Regions from separate parts of the Homo sapiens genome. Here region 1 is linked to region 2. A link means that fine-mapping ties the variant in region 2 to the expression of a gene that starts in the linked region. Tissue or cell type: prefrontal cortex. Region 2 holds a variant in brackets; the other region holds the start of a gene. All regions are shown on one strand. Distances are from middle to middle.

Region 1 (5,387 bases), 22 kb after region 2:
CCTTCACATGCTACCCCCAAAAGACACACTATTATCCAGCTTGTGAGAATGTCTGTTAGAAAAATGTTTCCTTCATGGCTTTTGCAATAATTTTTTGTTAAACGTGATCAAAATCACAATAATTTGCCGAGGAAAAAGATAAAAGAGACCTTCATTTTAATGTTATTATTATACTGAAATTTGATATACTTAAATTCTAAATATTCATTCATAGTTTTATGCATGTTGTCCAAGATTTTAATAATACTACTTACAAAGTAGTAATACAAAAGGCATCATGCCTGTGGGACTTTTACGTTGAAATAAACTTTAACAATTTTCAATGATATGAAGTGGCAGATTATAAATATGCATATTTAAAGAATTTCATTCATTATAATATATTCATTGGTATTCTTTCCTCTCTATGTGCAGTTTAAATAGAGTGTAGTTACATTGAAAAAAAAAATCCAGAAAGACAAAGTTGCATTTTCTCTTAAAAACAGAAAACTTTTTAAATTTTCCACTGGTTAAAAGACTACAGAAAACTCCTATCTAGCCTATTTTCTTTAGATTTTAGGCAGAGTGATGTAAGTTTTAAGATGTTAGTTGCAAACAGGTCCAATTAGTGAGTATGGAGAAATTATTAGATTATATTTGCTGCTAACTTTTGTTCCAGATGGAACCTAGAAGCTCTGATCTTTTTTACCCAGCCATTTGGCTTTAATCTATTATAACAAATTAGTTTAGCACTGAGAAAAACAAGACAAAGTACAGTTATTATTAAACACAATTAGTGTATGATACAAAAATTATAGGTCACTTGTTCATTATATGTCCATTAAAAGGTAAAAGCTGTTTACATTGTAAGTGTGACACTTAGCTTAACAGGAATATCTCTCTTAAATAGTAATGCTTAAAAAGTTATAGAAAAATAATAAAATGAAAAATACTCAAATACTTTTATGTTTCCAATGCAAAACTGCAATGCTTTTTATAGGCATCCTGTTCTTAGTGAAATGCTCCTGTTTATAATACATCTTTTGACTATGATCTTGGGGAAATTACATTATTTCTGTAAAATGAGTCTGTTCACAAATACAGCTATGTTAAATGCAATACTGGGCATAGGTTTTCTTGACAAACAATATGCAATAATGTTGGTTCTTTACACTCTTGATTACTTGGTTAGGCCACTAGAAATAAAAATTCAAACCAATTGAGGGTGGTGGCTTACTTATTTTAATTTTTTTTTTTTTTTTTACTTCTTTGGCATTTATAGTATTAAATTTTCAGGCATCAATTAAAATTTGATAACCAGAGCTTATGATGATAAAGACTTTTCTGAGGCTAACTTTTGCTTTCAGCTAAGTCTGTAGTTTGGAGTCTATAGATCTCGAGGAAAAATAATCTTAGAAAGTGCCTCTGTAGTTGAATAAATACTGAAAACGGATTCAAATGCAGTGTTATTTCAAATTCCATGTCCATTTCTCATTTGGTGACTTGCTCCAATAAAAGAACGAAAATGCTTCAGAATTCATTACTGAGTGTACATTTCCTGCCATGTTCTCCCACCCCACCCCCTAGCTATCTGAGATGCTTTGGTAACTGATAAACTGCAATTGTTTATAAACAATAACATGGCAGGCACCATGTGAAAAACAGAAATATAGGCCCAGTTTCCATTATCCATTCTAATAGGCATTCATTACATTGTACAAATATACAGAATATCTAAAATCCTTCTTTCACGTTATGGTTTTAGTCTTTTATTTTTAAAAGATAAACTTAAAAAGTAGTAGATTGATTTTATTTTTAGTTTCCGTCCCTCTCTTTTTTACCCAATCCCTTGTAAAAATGCTGCGAAGGTTTTTGGGCTTGGCAGAAACAGAAACTTTGGAAAGATTTTTTTACAGGTTACATTTACTTATTATTAGCATTTATTTTACAGGTTACATTACCTTAGAGGGGGAGTTATTAGTTTGAGTTTTATCATCTGTCTTGGTGGGTTTAGCATGCTGAAGAGGCCCACAGTGCTGACACTCCCGCGCGTCCCACCCTGAGTAAACCCGGAGCCTAGAGGGCTGCAGAAACACGTCCGCCAGGCGTCTCCTGCCCCAGAAGAGGAGGCCGCATGGATGCGTCTTTTTTCCAGAGACCCCCCCGCCACAGCCGCCCCGCAAGCCAAGATCAGAGAACCCCTTCCTTGGGTGGGGTAGGGGGACGCCCCCGGCCAAAGCCTGGATTGCGGTCTGGCGTCCCGGCAGCCATCCGGATGCTCGCGAGGACCGTGGCCTGTTTGGCACAAGAGCCCCACTGCCTCCCAGTTCGGAGCTTGCTGGGGACCGGCAATCTGGGCGGTGCTGGAAGTGTCCCCTGAACCTCTCAGTTTTCACCCACCTTCTGCAATCTCCCTGTAAGCTTAATTGACTCTTGACACACCGCACTGGAGGCGGGGTGTGTGTGTGGGTAAACTCCGTGTGTGGTGGGTGATATTGCGAAGTGTTGGCACTGCGGCCGCTTTCGCTCCTAGGTGGCCGCGGTCGGAAGGTGGGTCACCCCGCACCCTTGCGGCCGGGGACCGACTCTCCTTCGCGCGGCGGTCGCCACACTTACGGGATCCGAGGCGGGATCTCCTCCATCGATTTGAAACGCCCTGTCCACAGCAGGATTTTCTTGTCGAACTGCGAAGGCCTGCGCTGCGTGGGGACTCGGTGAATCTCCCCTGCAGCGAAAGCAACCCAGATGGACGCGGGAACTGACGCACCGGCACAGAGGATCAGCGCGCCCTCAAGCCGACTCCCGGGCCGGCCCCTCGCTGCCCTCCCGCAACCTCCTCCCTCCCAGGACCTCCCCGTCGGAGCCCTGGCTCACCGTGACCTTGGGGCCCAGAATTGCTGGGGGCCCCGCCGCTGGAGTAGCAGGGGAGACCCCGGGGCGGAAGAGCCGGTGCGGGCCGTCGCGTGGCCTCGAGAGGCGCCCCGGGGCCGCAGCGGACTGTTAGCCCGCGGCCAAGGCGCAGTAGGCTCCCGACCGCCCTGAGCATGCTGCCCGCTTGTCCCGCGCCGCACCCGCACCTCCGGACCCAGCCACAGGCGTTGTCCCCGCAGCTCTCCTCGTCCCGCCCCGGCCTGCCGCGCGCTGGAGAGCCTGGGACGTGCAGCTGGAACCCCTGGCGCTCGCACACTCAGCTCGCTATCCCCGTCTCCGCCCCCGGCCAGCGACCCGGGATCAGGGCGTCAAGCCCCGAGGGGCTGGTTCCTCAGGAAGCAGCCTGCCTCTGTTTGAAACAGGCTCACCACCGCCTGAGGCAGTGCGTGTAGCTCCTTTTAAATTCTTTGTATTGAGTAGAAATGTATTCCCGCCAGGCTTTTAGCCTTTGATTCCATCGTTTGTTCCCCAGGAGAATAAATCTAAATCCTCTCTTCCAGGAAGAGACAACAATCCTTCAAGTGCAGGAAACTGAAGACATTTCCCAATTAAGTGTTAAGGGCACTCCACTAACTTCTGGATGAGATTTCTTGAAGTTAGCTCCTCACCTCATCGTCTCCCACCCCCATACCTTTTCTCTTTCCTACGGAAAACAATCTCAATTCCTCCAAGTGCCTTTCTCTATCTTTTCTTCTTCTTTTCAGAGACAGTCTCTGGCTCTGTCACTCAGGCTAAAGTGCAGTGGCATGCTGATAGCTCATTGTAACGTCGAACTCCTGGACTCAAGTAGTCCTCCCACCTTAGCCTCCAGAGTAGCTAGGGCTTTGGTCGTGCGCCAGCACGCTCCGCTATTTTTTTTTTTTTTAAGAGATGGGATCTCACTATGTTGTCCAGACTGGTCTCCAACTCCTGGCCTCAAGCTATCAGCTGGGCTCTGCCTCCCAAAGCACTGGGATTACACGTATGAGCCGCCATGCCAGCTTCCTACCTCTTCATCTCTTAGCCCACAAACTCTCCACACTCCCTTCAAAATGTGCCTTTCTTCTGTCACCTTCCACCATCTCCTCTATGCTAAAAGGTAAAAGAATCTACTATTTTCAGGCATTAAATGGTAACAGGGATTCAGATTCAATGATTGGAGAGAAGGGTTGTACAAGCAATTTACTTATCTTGTTCCACAGACAACAGACCTCCTGCCAAGTCAAAGTGCTCATCAGCCCAGCACCAGGCCGAGCTCACCCTCCTCTGCTATTACTGCCTGTGAGTTTCCCTCCTTATCTAGACACTGCTTTGCACTTGTTGGATTTCTAGATATTTTGCTTCCTAACTAGACTGTCAGGCTCTTGAAAGCTATAACTTTTCTGTAACTGCCAGCTCAGTTTTTTTTTCTTTTTACATAACCGTGTTAAACAAAAAAAGAGGGGTTAATAGCTCTGTGAAGACATACATTTAGAGGAGCGCTTGCAGAAGGAACATGGGCTTTGCCTTCACACCTAGGTTTAAATCCCGGATTTGTGACTTAAAAGTTGCACAATCATGAGCAGTAAATCATTTAAGTTATAAGTCTTGGTCTCTTTTGTAAAACCAGAATTCCTATCTTTTAGGTTTATTCATGCAATGACTACCAGTAACCAGCTACGTGCCAGCTACCTCTCAGAGCTGGGGATGGAGCAGTGATGACATCAGGTGAAGATGAAGAAAAATAAAACAAGGTGAAAAAGAATAAGCAGGAGTAGAGTGAGAAGATATTTAGAAACCATGGTTAGCAATGTCCTTCTAAATGTGCCTGGTGTGTAATAATACTTCAGAAGATAATGATTTCTTTCCCCGTCACATTCTTTAGTCCCAAAACACAAGGGCATTTTAATTTATGAAATCTCCTGTGGGGAACTAGGAGCTCCCTGACCTTCAGGAGTTGTGATTATATTCCCAAGATATAGCTGAAAAATTGGCACTTAGTAGATATTTAATAAGTATTTGTTAAATAAATGAATAGATGAATACAAGTCTTCGAAAACAGAATAGTCTGCACCTAGGCTAGTTTACGAAAAGACTGAGATGCTTGAGGACATTCTATGTCCTTTTAAACTTCATACTTTCAGTGTCTATCATGTTGCTTACCACATAGCGGTCTCCAAATAAGTGTTTATAAAACTCAACTGAATGAATTCCTGCCTGAGAAAGTATGTTGCCATAGCTAATATTGCTCCAGCATTATGGTACTTGAAGATTCTTGCATTATTTAAATGTGGTTTTTTCTATTAGTATTTTATTTGTCTTCACATCACTGAGAGGGAGTATCCATAGAGCTAGAGAAAGCCATCACTGAGAAACAACCAATCGTTAATAATTCACTAAGAAATATTAAACAAGGGAAATAAGTTTATTTCCCTGGAGGGAATCAAATGTCATAAATATACACAGGATTTTCTATTTCGAGCTTCTCCAGTATTGCAGAACTACAGGTCAACAGAATA
Region 2 (5,387 bases):
TGGAGAAATAGGAACACTTTTACACTGTTGGTGGGACTGTAAACTAGTTCAAGCATTGTGGAAGTCAGTTTGGCGATTCCTCAGTGATCTAGAACTAGAAATACCATTTGACCCAGCCATCCCATTACTGGGTATATACCCAAAGGAATATAAATCATGCTGCTATAAAGACACATGCACACATATGTTTATTGCAGCACTATTCACGATAGCAAAGACTTGGAATCAACCCAAATGTCCAACAATGATAGACTGGATTAAGAAAATGTGGCACATATACACCATGGAATACTATGCAGCCATAAAAAATGATGAGTTCATGTCCTTTGTAGGGACATGGATGAAATTGGAAATCATCCTTCTCAGTAAGCTATCGCAAGAACAAAAAACCAAATGCCGCATCTTCTCACTCATAGGTGGGAATTGAACAATGAGAACACATGGACACAGGAAGGGGAACATCACACTCTGGGGACTGTTGTGGGGTTGGGGGAGGGGGGAGGGATAGCTTTAGGAGATATACCTAATGCTAAATGACGAGTTAATGGGTGCAGCACACCAACATGGCACATGTATACATATGTAACTAACCTGCACATTGTGCACATGTACCCTGAAACTTAAAGTATAATAAAAAAAAAAGAAATGTACTTTTAAATTTCAGACCTTAAAAATATGCCACTAACTTCTAAGTTGTGATGTGATTACATGAGTTTGAAATTCGTTGATACTTGCTTTATGATCTGATATGTGTTGGTTTTAGTGAAATGGCCCATGTGTGTAAGAAAAGAATGTGTTTTGTTAATTGATTCATGTCTTTTACATACTAGTCTGCTTAATTCATCAGTTTCTAACTCGCCAGTTTCTAAGAGAGGTGTGTTAAAATCTCCCAAGATGATTGGTGGATTTTGAATTTTCCATATAGTTCTGACGATTTTTTTGTGTTTTATATGTTTTTTACATTATTTTGTGCATAGAAATTTAGAATTACATCTTTTTTTTTAAGGTTCAGATGAGAATTTGTACATTTATGTGCTAAAAGTACAGAACAATAGTTGACATTTTCAGAGTACTTGTTAAGTGAATTTTAACAAAATAGTTGAAACTTATTTGAAAATATTTTCCCTTTGGTCTTTGTGGTAGAAATGACAGACTTTTTCATTGAATGATGAGGACACAGCAGCCATATTATGCCAAGAGGAAAAATATCATGATCATATTGAAAGATCAAGCATGAGCTTCCATGGTGAAGTCTTCTGTACCAATGCACCAGAGAATGCCTACCATCCAAAAAAGCAGTCAGCTGATGGAAAAGAAGATTATTAAACCTTTGTTCTGGGATTTACTGTTAAAAAACAAACAAAAAACAACAAAAAAGCGGTGACAGGAAACAGTTAAGGAAATGATTTAACTGAAGGGAAGCAAGATTTTTTTAAAGCATTGTTCTTAATCCCCATGACTGTCCTTCAGTCACAATTCCAGAATAAAAGAATCTACTTTGTGTATTAATGTTTTATGCTTTTTATGAAACAATCAGGTCTTTTATTTTCCCCCTTCTTGAACCACAGGGGTAACTATCTTTTCACCCAATCCAAGTGCTGGTCATAAATACACAAAAAACTTGTGTTTATCATGCAAACCACTAGCACCAAGAAATTTTATTTGTTGCAATTTGATGTCAAATAACATTACTGGGTAAATAACTTTTTATATACACATACTAAAACACAAATGCAGATTTATGGGTCAGATGACAGTTATTATTTTTCCTGTGCATGTGGTAATTCATTAACATCGCCTCAGAAATATATTAGAATACACATGTGTATATAGAATATACATTCGTACCTACATAAACATGTGATATGTATAGTTTTTAACAAATACACTGGCCATTACCCATTACACTTGAAAATACATGTATGAACTACCTCATGAAATGTAAACAGGAGTATAAAGAACCACAAGTTTCTACCGAT[A/G]ATAGACATCTAAAAGTCTTGACTATGGAGAGAGAGTTCTTTTTTACATAAACATATTTAACCCAAAGTAGAAGTCATTTTTGGAAATCCCTCTATTAGATAACACAATTCTCCTTCATTTGATACTGATTTCTGTTGTACTAACCACAGCCTATTTTTTATATACTCCTAACAGAATAAGACACACAAAAATAAGAGTTAAATATTGGTGTGTTTTAAAACTCTCACATCTTTGAAAGCACTACTTGAACCTACCTACTTTATTTTATTTCTGACTGTGCCCTAAGACACCATGAAGAGAAGACGCCAATTTAAAAAGTTCAACAAATAGGAAAATCCTATTGGTATAAAAATTTAAAATATTGGCTTTCTAGCTCAGTAATTGTCACAGCTTACTGTATTCAAGTGAACATCTATACATCTATTCCTGCTTGCATCTTAGAGTGGGATTTAAAATTTTTCAAAGGATAATCCTTCAATATTGTATTTTGAAGCACGTACATTAAGGTAAATTTCTTTTAAAGCTATCACACTTTCTGTGTGAAAGTTGAAGACAACTTATATGAATAATATTCTGTTATGTAAGGAAGGGGTATTCCAGTTGTACCCGTAAAACTGACAAATCTGTCCTAGTGTTGGGGATTTGCCACTAAGTTTTTTGTTGGGATAGAAATTATACTTTAAAAGGGGGAAAATCCTTTTTTTTTTTTTAAATGAACAAGCACCCCTTTTTATTGTTCTCTCTAGAGTCTATGTTTTGAAAGATGTCAAACTCCACTAATTGATATTTAATTCCAGTTTTAAATAATCAGCTGTACAAATGCGTTTTTAAAGTATAATAAGCAACATTTCAAAAACTAAAAAGATTTTAATCTTATTTAATCACGATGATATTGTAGTTAGCTCAGTGACTATAGATTCAGAAATACTAGTTTAACATGGTAATTGTTTTAAATTTTTTTTTGCTTTTCCATTTGTTTAGACTTTTTTTCTTTCATGAATGTATTTTTTATTTTAAATTGAGAAATAATGGTATATATTTATGGGGTATATTGTGTTTTTTAAATATATTTGCATCATGACATGATAAAAATCAAGCTAATTAACATATCTGTCACCTTACTTACCCTTTTTTATGATGAGAACATTTAAAATCTACTCTTTTTTTTTCCCTCCTCAAGATAGAGTCTCACTCCGTCACCCAGGCTGGAGTGCAGTGGCATGATCTTGGCTCACTGCAACCTCCATCACCCAGGTTCAAGCAATTCTCATGCCTCAGCCTCCCAAGTAGCTGGGATGACAGGCGTGCACCACCATGCCCGGCTAGTTTTTTGTATTTTTAGTAGAGATGGGGTTTCGCCATATTGCCCAGGCTGGTCTAGAACTCCTGGCCTCAAGCAATCCGCCCACCCCACCTCAGTCTCCCAAAGTGTTGGGATTACAGGCGTGAGCCACCGTGCCTGGCTAAAATCTCTTTTAGCAATTTTGAAATACACAATACATGGTTACTAACTATAGTCAGCATGCTGTGCAATGGATCTTTAAAACCTATTCCATATGTTACTGACAACTTTGTACCCTTTGACTGTCTCCCCATTCCTCATCCCCTCCATATCCCCCAATCTGGTAACCTTCATTCTACTCTCTACTTCTATGAGTTTGAGTTGTTTAGATTCTACATATAAGTGAGATCACACAGTTTTTGTCTTTTTGTTCCTGGCTTATTTCACCCAGCATAATGTCCTCCAGATTCAGTCATGTTGTAAATGGCAGAATTTCCTCTTTTTGTTGGATGAATAGTATTCCATTTTACCACATTTTCTTTATTCATTCCTCCTTGATGGGCAATTAGGTTGCTTTCATATCATGGCCATTGTGAATAATGCTGCAATGAACATGCAAGTGCAGATATCACTTTGACATACTGATTTCAAGTCCTTAGGATATATATCCAGAAGTGGGATTGCTGGATTATATGGTAATTCTATTTGAAATTTTTTGACGAATGTCTGTACTTTTTTCTATAATAGCTATATTTCCATTCTACCAACAGTGTACAAAAGGTGCCTTTTCTCCACATCCTCACCAATACTTATCTTTCATCTTTTTGATAATAGCCATTCTGACAGATGTGAGGTAATGTATCATTATAATTTTAATTTGTATTTCCCTATGATCAATGATTTTAAGCATTTTTTTCATATATCTATTGGCCATTTGTATGTCTTCTTTGGATAAGTGTCTATCAGGTCCTTTGTCCATTTTTTAATTGGGTAATTTATTTTTCCTGCTATTGAGTTGAGTTTCTAATATATTTTGGATAGAAACTCTGTATCACATATATAATTTGCACATATTTTCTCCTAATCCATGGGCTTTCTCTTCACTCTATTGATTGTTTTCTTTGCTATGATAGTTTTTTTTTTAGTTTGAAGTGAAATGGCCTCATTACCTGGGGTGGCATCTGAAGTTCTTGGTCTCATGGCCGAGTAAATCAAGGACGCACACACGCCAAGGGTGAGGTCAGAGCAGAAGCAGACGTTTAATAGACAAAAGAGAACAACTGTTTGTTGCAGAGAGCGGTCACAAAAGGGTTGCCATTCAGCAGTGAAATGCAAGGGTTTTATAAGTGAGTTAGTGGGGAGGCAGTATCTTATCTCATAGGGCACAAAAAACTGGTTAGGACCAGGTATGCTATCTGCATAGAATGTGAATCTCTGGCATCCCCCACCCCAACCTTTTATTATGCTGGGGGTCCTTTGCCTGAGTGACTCCACATTGCTTTCCTACTGTGCACGTGCTAAAAAAAAGGGGGAGGTGGAGCCCCCATGGTGGACATGCGTGGCCCCAGGTACCCCTTTCTACCGGTGCAGTTGCAGACATTCCCCGCATGCAAGCTTCCAGCTTCCTTATCACTGTTTGCAGCCCGATCTTCCAGGCTGCTCTTTGTTAGTAAAAAAGTGATTTCTTTGGCTGCTTTTTGTTAGAAGGGAAGTTCTGCCAAGAACTTTTTGCCTTAACTATCTGCCTAGCTAGTCTCTTTTTATCTCCTCTCTCATAAGTAATCACATTTGTCTTTTTTCTTTTGTTGCTTGTGCTTCGGAGTTCTTATCCAAAAAATCATTGCCCATACCAATGTCATAGAGCTTTTCTCTGTTTTATTCTACTAGTTTTACAGTCTCAGGTCTTATGTTTAAGTTTTTAATCCATTTCAAGTTGATTTTTCTACATAGTGTGAGATGAAGGTCTTATTTCATTCTTTTGCATGTGGATGTCCAGTTTTTCCAACACCATTTACTGAAAGACTCTCTCCATTGGGTGTTCTTGACACCTTTGTCAAAAATCAATTGACCATATAGATATGTGGGTTTATTTCTGGGCTCTCTATTCTTTTCCACTGCTTGTTGT

Which allele goes with the higher level. Alleles are on the strand shown, and positions count from the first base shown. SD is a standard deviation of normalised expression in the study named.
As copies of A replace G in region 2, the expression in prefrontal cortex of the gene that starts at base 3,168 in region 1 goes down (moderate effect, 0.57 SD a copy in CommonMind).

Evidence for each region. PIP is the estimated chance that this variant, and not a neighbour inherited with it, causes the effect. A credible set is the group of variants that fine-mapping cannot tell apart.
Region 1: FAM162B starts here. The variant in region 2 is the best candidate, but not a certain one, in a credible set for the expression of FAM162B in prefrontal cortex (CommonMind, PIP 0.87).

Annotation. Positions count from the first base shown.
Region 1 is chr6:116,762,552-116,767,938 of GRCh38, forward strand. It overlaps FAM162B (family with sequence similarity 162 member B), which reads right to left and starts at 3,168. Exons shown (of 4, transcript NM_001085480.3): 1 at 2,854-3,168; 2 at 2,596-2,704. The coding sequence starts at 3,025. LOC105377963 (a long non-coding RNA gene) reads left to right here and starts at 3,817. Exons shown (of 3, transcript XR_942910.3): 1 at 3,817-3,988; 2 at 4,092-4,170; 3 at 4,515-5,387. RefSeq lists an enhancer at 2,189-2,703.
Region 2 is chr6:116,740,363-116,745,749 of GRCh38, forward strand. It overlaps KPNA5 (karyopherin subunit alpha 5), which reads left to right. Exons shown (of 14, transcript NM_001366306.2): 14 at 1-1,505. Among named protein-coding and RNA genes, the nearest start is that of FAM162B, 23 kb to the right of the region's middle. The variant A/G (reference allele first, on the strand shown) is at 1,980.